2 separate regions of the Homo sapiens genome follow, and region 1 is linked to region 2. The links come from fine-mapping of genetic effects on gene expression. A gene starts in region 2. The other region holds a variant in brackets. All regions are shown on one strand. Distances are from middle to middle.

The links. PIP is the estimated chance that this variant, and not a neighbour inherited with it, causes the effect. A credible set is the group of variants that fine-mapping cannot tell apart.
Region 1: its variant is the best candidate, but not a certain one, in a credible set for the expression of SIRPB2 in monocytes (Schmiedel 2018, PIP 0.51).

The regions. Positions count from the first base shown.
Region 1 is chr20:1,850,606-1,853,523 of GRCh38, forward strand. No RefSeq gene overlaps it. Among named protein-coding and RNA genes, the nearest start is that of SIRPA, 43 kb to the right of the region's middle. The variant A/G (reference allele first, on the strand shown) is at 1,404.
Region 2 is chr20:1,489,809-1,492,726 of GRCh38, forward strand. It overlaps SIRPB2 (signal regulatory protein beta 2), which reads right to left and starts at 1,612. Exons shown (of 5, transcript NM_001122962.2): 1 at 1,467-1,612. The coding sequence starts at 1,551.

The sequences.
Region 1 (2,918 bases), 360 kb after region 2:
TTCCAGGAACTGAAACCTTTGCCTTCCCTTTAGACTTGCCTCCTAACTCCGTCTACATTAACCATATGTCTAATCTCAAGTCAAAAATTCAAGGTTTATAGGGTAGGGGCTAGGCTTGTCAGCATTTCCCAATGATGTCCTGTCCCACGATAAAACAATTCTGGGGACAATACATTCTGGAAATGCTACATGAAATCTCCCCCTCTTGAAGCTTCACATTACACATTTGCATATAGAAGAATCTAAGGGAAGCAAAAAAAAAAAAGTTTGTCAAACTTTGCTTAATCCAGTTCTTCAAACTTATTTAACCACATAACTCTTTTTCTCAAAGTTCCTGTTTGCATCTCTGTCAGTTATCATGCTTTAACTTGCATCAGAAACCTCAGTCAAGCTGGTTTATGCAACCGGAAGAGTACATTAGCTTTTGAGACTGAAAGTCTAGAAAACATAAGGGCCTCAGGTAGAGTTCAATCAAGGCCTCGGCTCCATCTCTTGAGGCTTCCCTTGTGTCTCTATCCCCCCTTCTGTACACTCGTAAGCTTCATCCTCAGCCTGGTTTACCCCATAAGAACAAAATAGCTGCAGCAGTTCTGGGCATCATATTCAAGTACCCCACTGCACAAAGAAGAGGAGCCTTCTCTTTTCATTACAGACTGGATGTCCTTGCTGTATTTAGACCATGTACTTATCTCTGAGCCAATCACTGGGCAAGAGAAATAAATGGGCATCAGCCAATGAGAGCTTACCCCTGGGATGAAATCATAACATCTTCCACAAAGCCTATGACAATGTCTTCCTTCTAGTAACACATATCCCAGTAATCTCAGCTATCCCATCCCATTCTTTGCTAAGGAAACTGATTTGTGTCCACAGCACTGGTGAGCCACTGATCTCAAAGAGGGTAGGCCCCTAACATGAACTCTGGGGGTGAATCTTGATTGGTCCAAAGATCATGGTAACCTTATTTCTCTTCACCAACGATTGGTTCAGAGATGGCCATAGGACTTGGTTCTAGCTAATGAGATGCAAGCATCTCCTGGGTGGGGCTTCTAGAAAAGCTTTTGTCTTCTGGTGCAAAAAATAGACTTAGATGGCATATTCCTTTGCTCCTTCACCTTTCCTTCTTCTTCATACCTGGAATGAGGATTTGATACCTGGAGGTGTGGCAGCCATCGTGGGACCAAGAGGCAAAAACTGCAAGAATAAATGCCACAGTCCCAGAGACTGCAGAACAGAAAAATAGAGCCCAAAGGCTAGACAACATTGTTGGGCAGCTGTGCATAGTCTGGAATGCTATCTCTTGACATCTTATTATGAAAAATTGGATTGGAAATACATATTTGTTTGAGCCAAAGACATTCATTACTAACTGACCAAAGCCAAGTCATTTTTTGTAAAATAGG[A/G]CTTGTGAGAGCCTTGAGACACAGCCTTGAAGACACAGCTTGAGTATCCTTGAATTCCAGATACTTTCATAAACAAGTTCTGCCCAAAGATGTTATAAGAAAGCAGATTGTCCAAGCTTTGCATCCACCCCAGCAAAGAGTTGAGTGTTCCCTGTGTGAGAGGGGCACCAGGAGTCATGGAGCGTCAGGCTGGGAGCCCAACAAATCCCATGGCAGAGTGTCCCATGTTGCTTTGAGGTTTATAGAGGAAGCTATGACAATGCCAACTCAAAAGTACATTCTTGAATTCAGATACTGATTGAGATGCAGCGAAATCTATCCACAGTCTTAAGCTCATCTCACTCTTCTTATATCCTAGTAATCTTACTTCTGAGCTCTCTTCTGATAAAATAACCCATAATAAGCAGAGAAAAAGCCAGGAACATAATTTTCATGACAGTTACATTTACAATATCCTCCTCATCCTGCCCCAGCCCCACCAAAAAAACTGGACAAATCTAAATGTCCTATAACAGAGGAAGGATTTTAAAACTATCTGTTCAGTGGAATATTACATGATCATAAAAAATGATGTTTGCAAGTTTATAATATTATAGCACAGGGGAAAAGCCGGCTGTAGCATTATATATATTATGTATAATCTCAATTATAGAAAAATTGCATGAGGGAAAAATCAACCATGAAATAAAGACAGTAACATGTTAATAGTGATTATGCTTGGTTACCGTTATTATGGGTAATTTGTTGGGGAATTTTTCCTGCTGTTATATATTTTCCATTTTACCTATATGTTCTACTTTTGTAAGCATAAAAAATAAAACTGGCTCTTCTTTTAAAAGCTTCCAGGACCCTCCAATTTGTGAGATCATTGCTGTTGTCTCTCCTCCAGTAAAGCAGGTAATCAAGGACTGCCCAGAGCTGGTGACCCCATTCTGCACCAGGCCAAAATAAAAACAGCTTCCAACTCCAGCATATTTGATTAACAGCTTGAAATTCTTTCAAGAGGCAAAATGAATGGTAGGGAAAGGGGAAGATCAACACCCTATTGTTAAATGGTGATGTGAGCTTGCAGGAACTAAAGGCAAAAAGAGGTACACACCATTCCCTGCCTTATGCAAATCGATGCAAATAGGACACACTCTCTGGCTAAGCAAGAATTCCAGGTCTGAGCTCCCACCTGGATCCTGGGTCTCACTGAGGAGGGAAGGAAGCAGTGAGAGGAGGGCATAGTGATGACCCCATTCATTGAGCACCTACTAAGTGTCCCACTTGCAAAGCATTTTCATGGCCTGGAGCTCGTCTACCACTCATCACCGCTTGTGATGAAGGTAATATTATCACCCACTGTTTGAAGGCAAGTCAAGTGGAGCTCAGAGTGGGAAGTGGCCTATGCAACGTCACAGCAGGACCAGCCAACTCCAAAGCCAGTGGTATCTGATGACCAGGCTACGCAACCCTGGGATACAAGTGCATATGGTGCCTCTGGTGGGATCTAGGGTCAGTCCTCAGTGTGGA
Region 2 (2,918 bases):
GTGGTGAGGCTCAATCCTGGGCCAGCTACGTAATTTGTGAGGCCAAGTGCAAAACGGGAATGCAGGTCCCTTGTTCAAAAACTATTGAGCAACACAGCAGAACATTAAACCAAGCATGGGGCCCTTCTAAGCAGGAGGCTCTGTGCCACTATATAGAGGGCACACCCAAGAACCAGCCCTGACTCAGCTTGAGATGCAGCTGGACTCAAACATTCCAACTGACTGGTTTAAGCAACTTCTCTTATTTTCCATCTATTCTATTGCAACAATCATTGGGAATATTTTTTATTCTGAGTAGTTTAGATTTCTGATTTCCTAGTCTAGTGCCTAAAACATAGCAGACACTCAAAAGTACCTGTGGAATGAGACCTAGCAATTATGATTCACATCTTAGAATTGAGGAAATCAGCTTAGAGAATTGAAGTGGTGTCTTGAGTCATACGGCCAATGAGTAAGGGAGCACCTAGGTCCGACCCCACACCTGGGTTCTGCCAGGATCTCTCCTGGGGATGGCCACCCCGGAGGACCAAAGATGTCATGGACAGAATCTAGATCTCAGTAGAGCCTGGAGCAGAGGCCCAGATGGGCAGGAGATGGAATGAGCCCACTGAGAGCCAAGTATCCCTGCCTGGTAGATCAGAGAGTTCTGGACTCAGAGGCTGAGCTATATATTCAGGGGTCTCAAGACTCTGGAGCTAACCTGGCCTGCCCCTGAGTTAGAGGAAACATGGGAATGATAATAATAATCGCCAAGAGTTATCAAATCTTTGTTATGCCAGGCACTTATGGGTATTATCTTGTTAAATTCTCCTAAGAAAGTCCCAAGGTGGGTCCTATTTTTAGCTCCATTTTACAGTTGGAAAAACTGAGGCTCAGAAAGAAATTACTTAAACTGGTTAGTGGTGAGGTTTGAGCCTACTGCGTCTTAAGCTGAGCCAGGGCTGGTTCATGGCTGTGCCATCTATGTAGTCGCACAGGGCCCTGTGCTTAGAAGGAGCCCATGCTTGGTTTACTGCTCTGCTGTGTTGCTCAATACTTTTTGAACAAAAGACCGCAGTTTTCATTTTGCAGTGGGTCTCATAAACTATGCAGCCGGCCCAGGGCTGAGCCTCACCACTTTTCTATTTAATACTCACAGTAGCCCTAGAGAAAGGTCCCATGAGCGTCCCTGTTTTGTAGAAGAGGCTCCTGGGGCTAAAAGAGCTGCAGCATCTGACGTGGGCATAGGAGCAATCAAGCTGGAAGCCAGTGGGTGTGAGCGCAGAGCCTGGGAGCTTATCACTTCACTACGCTGCTTCTTGGGACACTGGGGGTGCCCTCTGCCGGAGTCAGGCAAATTTTCAGTGGACCCCTCTTTACTCTATCTTCATGGGGTCAAGCTTCTTCAGGCATGGCAGAGCACTTAGTGCCCCTCTAGGGACTGACCAGCCGGGGGTGGACCCTGTTCTATCCTAGACCCCACTTACCTGAGGGGACAAGGACCAGTGCCAGCAGCAGGAAGCAGGGAGGCAAGTGGGCCAGGCAGGTGGGGGCCGACATCGTGGAGCACATGGCATCTTCTGTGGTCCCCAAGACTTGGGGCTCCTCTGCTCTCTTGTGAGTGTTGGAGTCTGAGGCGGGGCCCGTGGACAAGGCAGTTTCTGCGTCTCTTGGCCACAGCTGCTTGGGGAAGTGTTTTCATTGCAGCAACACAAGGCTGTTGGTGCAATAGGAAGGAGCCCGGTCAAAGGGTTTCCTGCTTTTGTGTCTGGGCTGTGATTCCTGTAGTCACTGTGCTAAAACCTTGCCATAGGCTCCATCCTAGGTGCCCGGGAGGGAGGTGGGCACTGAGGTCATAGGACGCACTCCAGAATCGGGTGGAATTTGGAGCAAACATTGGATCTTCCTCTTCTTGGCTGTGCAAGATTTCAAAGTCACTTCCCATTTCTGAGCCTTTTGTTTCTTCATCTGCAGCGTAGGAACAACGGCAGTTCCCTCCTCAGAACAGTTTTGGTAAGATTATGAGAAATAATGTGAGGGCACAGAACAATGTAAATGCTAAACATATTAACCATTATTATTCATGATGTGCAGAAAGTAGAGGAGGTGACATTGCTTAAGAAGAAGGATTTATTATAAAGCAAGCCCCATGGGGGCCTCCTTTTAGCACTGCAGGGAGGGTACAGGCCTAATTCCTAAAAGTATAATCATGTGTAACTCTCTCAGCCTCTGTTTCCTGGGGTCCAAGTGAAACATACTCAGATTGTGCAAACATTTGCGTTTGTGGCATCTTTGTTTCCTGTAAGTGATCTGAACTTCCTCAGGAGCCTCCTGGTGCTGGCTATCAAGAAGGAAAAGCTTAATCTTGCCAATTCATGCAATCCAGGCAATCTCTTTAGCCACACTGTCTGGGTTCAAATCTTGGCTTTACTCAGTCTGGCTGTGTGACCTTAGGACAATCATTTGACCACTTTATGCCTCGGTTTCCTCATCTGTAAAACAGGAATAAAAATGTGGTAGCATGTGTGGGGTGGAGTAAGCACTCTATAGGCTTTCACCATTGTCTTTTAGGTTAACTCAGTCTTTTAATTAACTCAGGGAAAAGTACAAGAACAACTCAGCCTTTCATTATTTCACTTCCTCCCTCATGCTTCAGAAGGTTCTGGGTGCAGAGGAAGCTGAAGATTCTCCAGCAACAGGGTGGCAGGCCTTGGATCTGAGTATGTCCCCTGGGTCCCAGAGGTCTGGTGTCTACTATGAGGAGGTTAGTCTGGCCTGGTCCCCAAGGACTTTGCACTGGGTCTGTGACTGGTCTTTTCTAGACTTTTGAGGCCTTGCATTGATACCCCTGCTCAATTCCATTACTCCCTCTACTTGTTCTCCTGTCAATGAGATCTATATAGTGAAACTTCTTTGAAAGGGCCACAAGCCTAGATGAT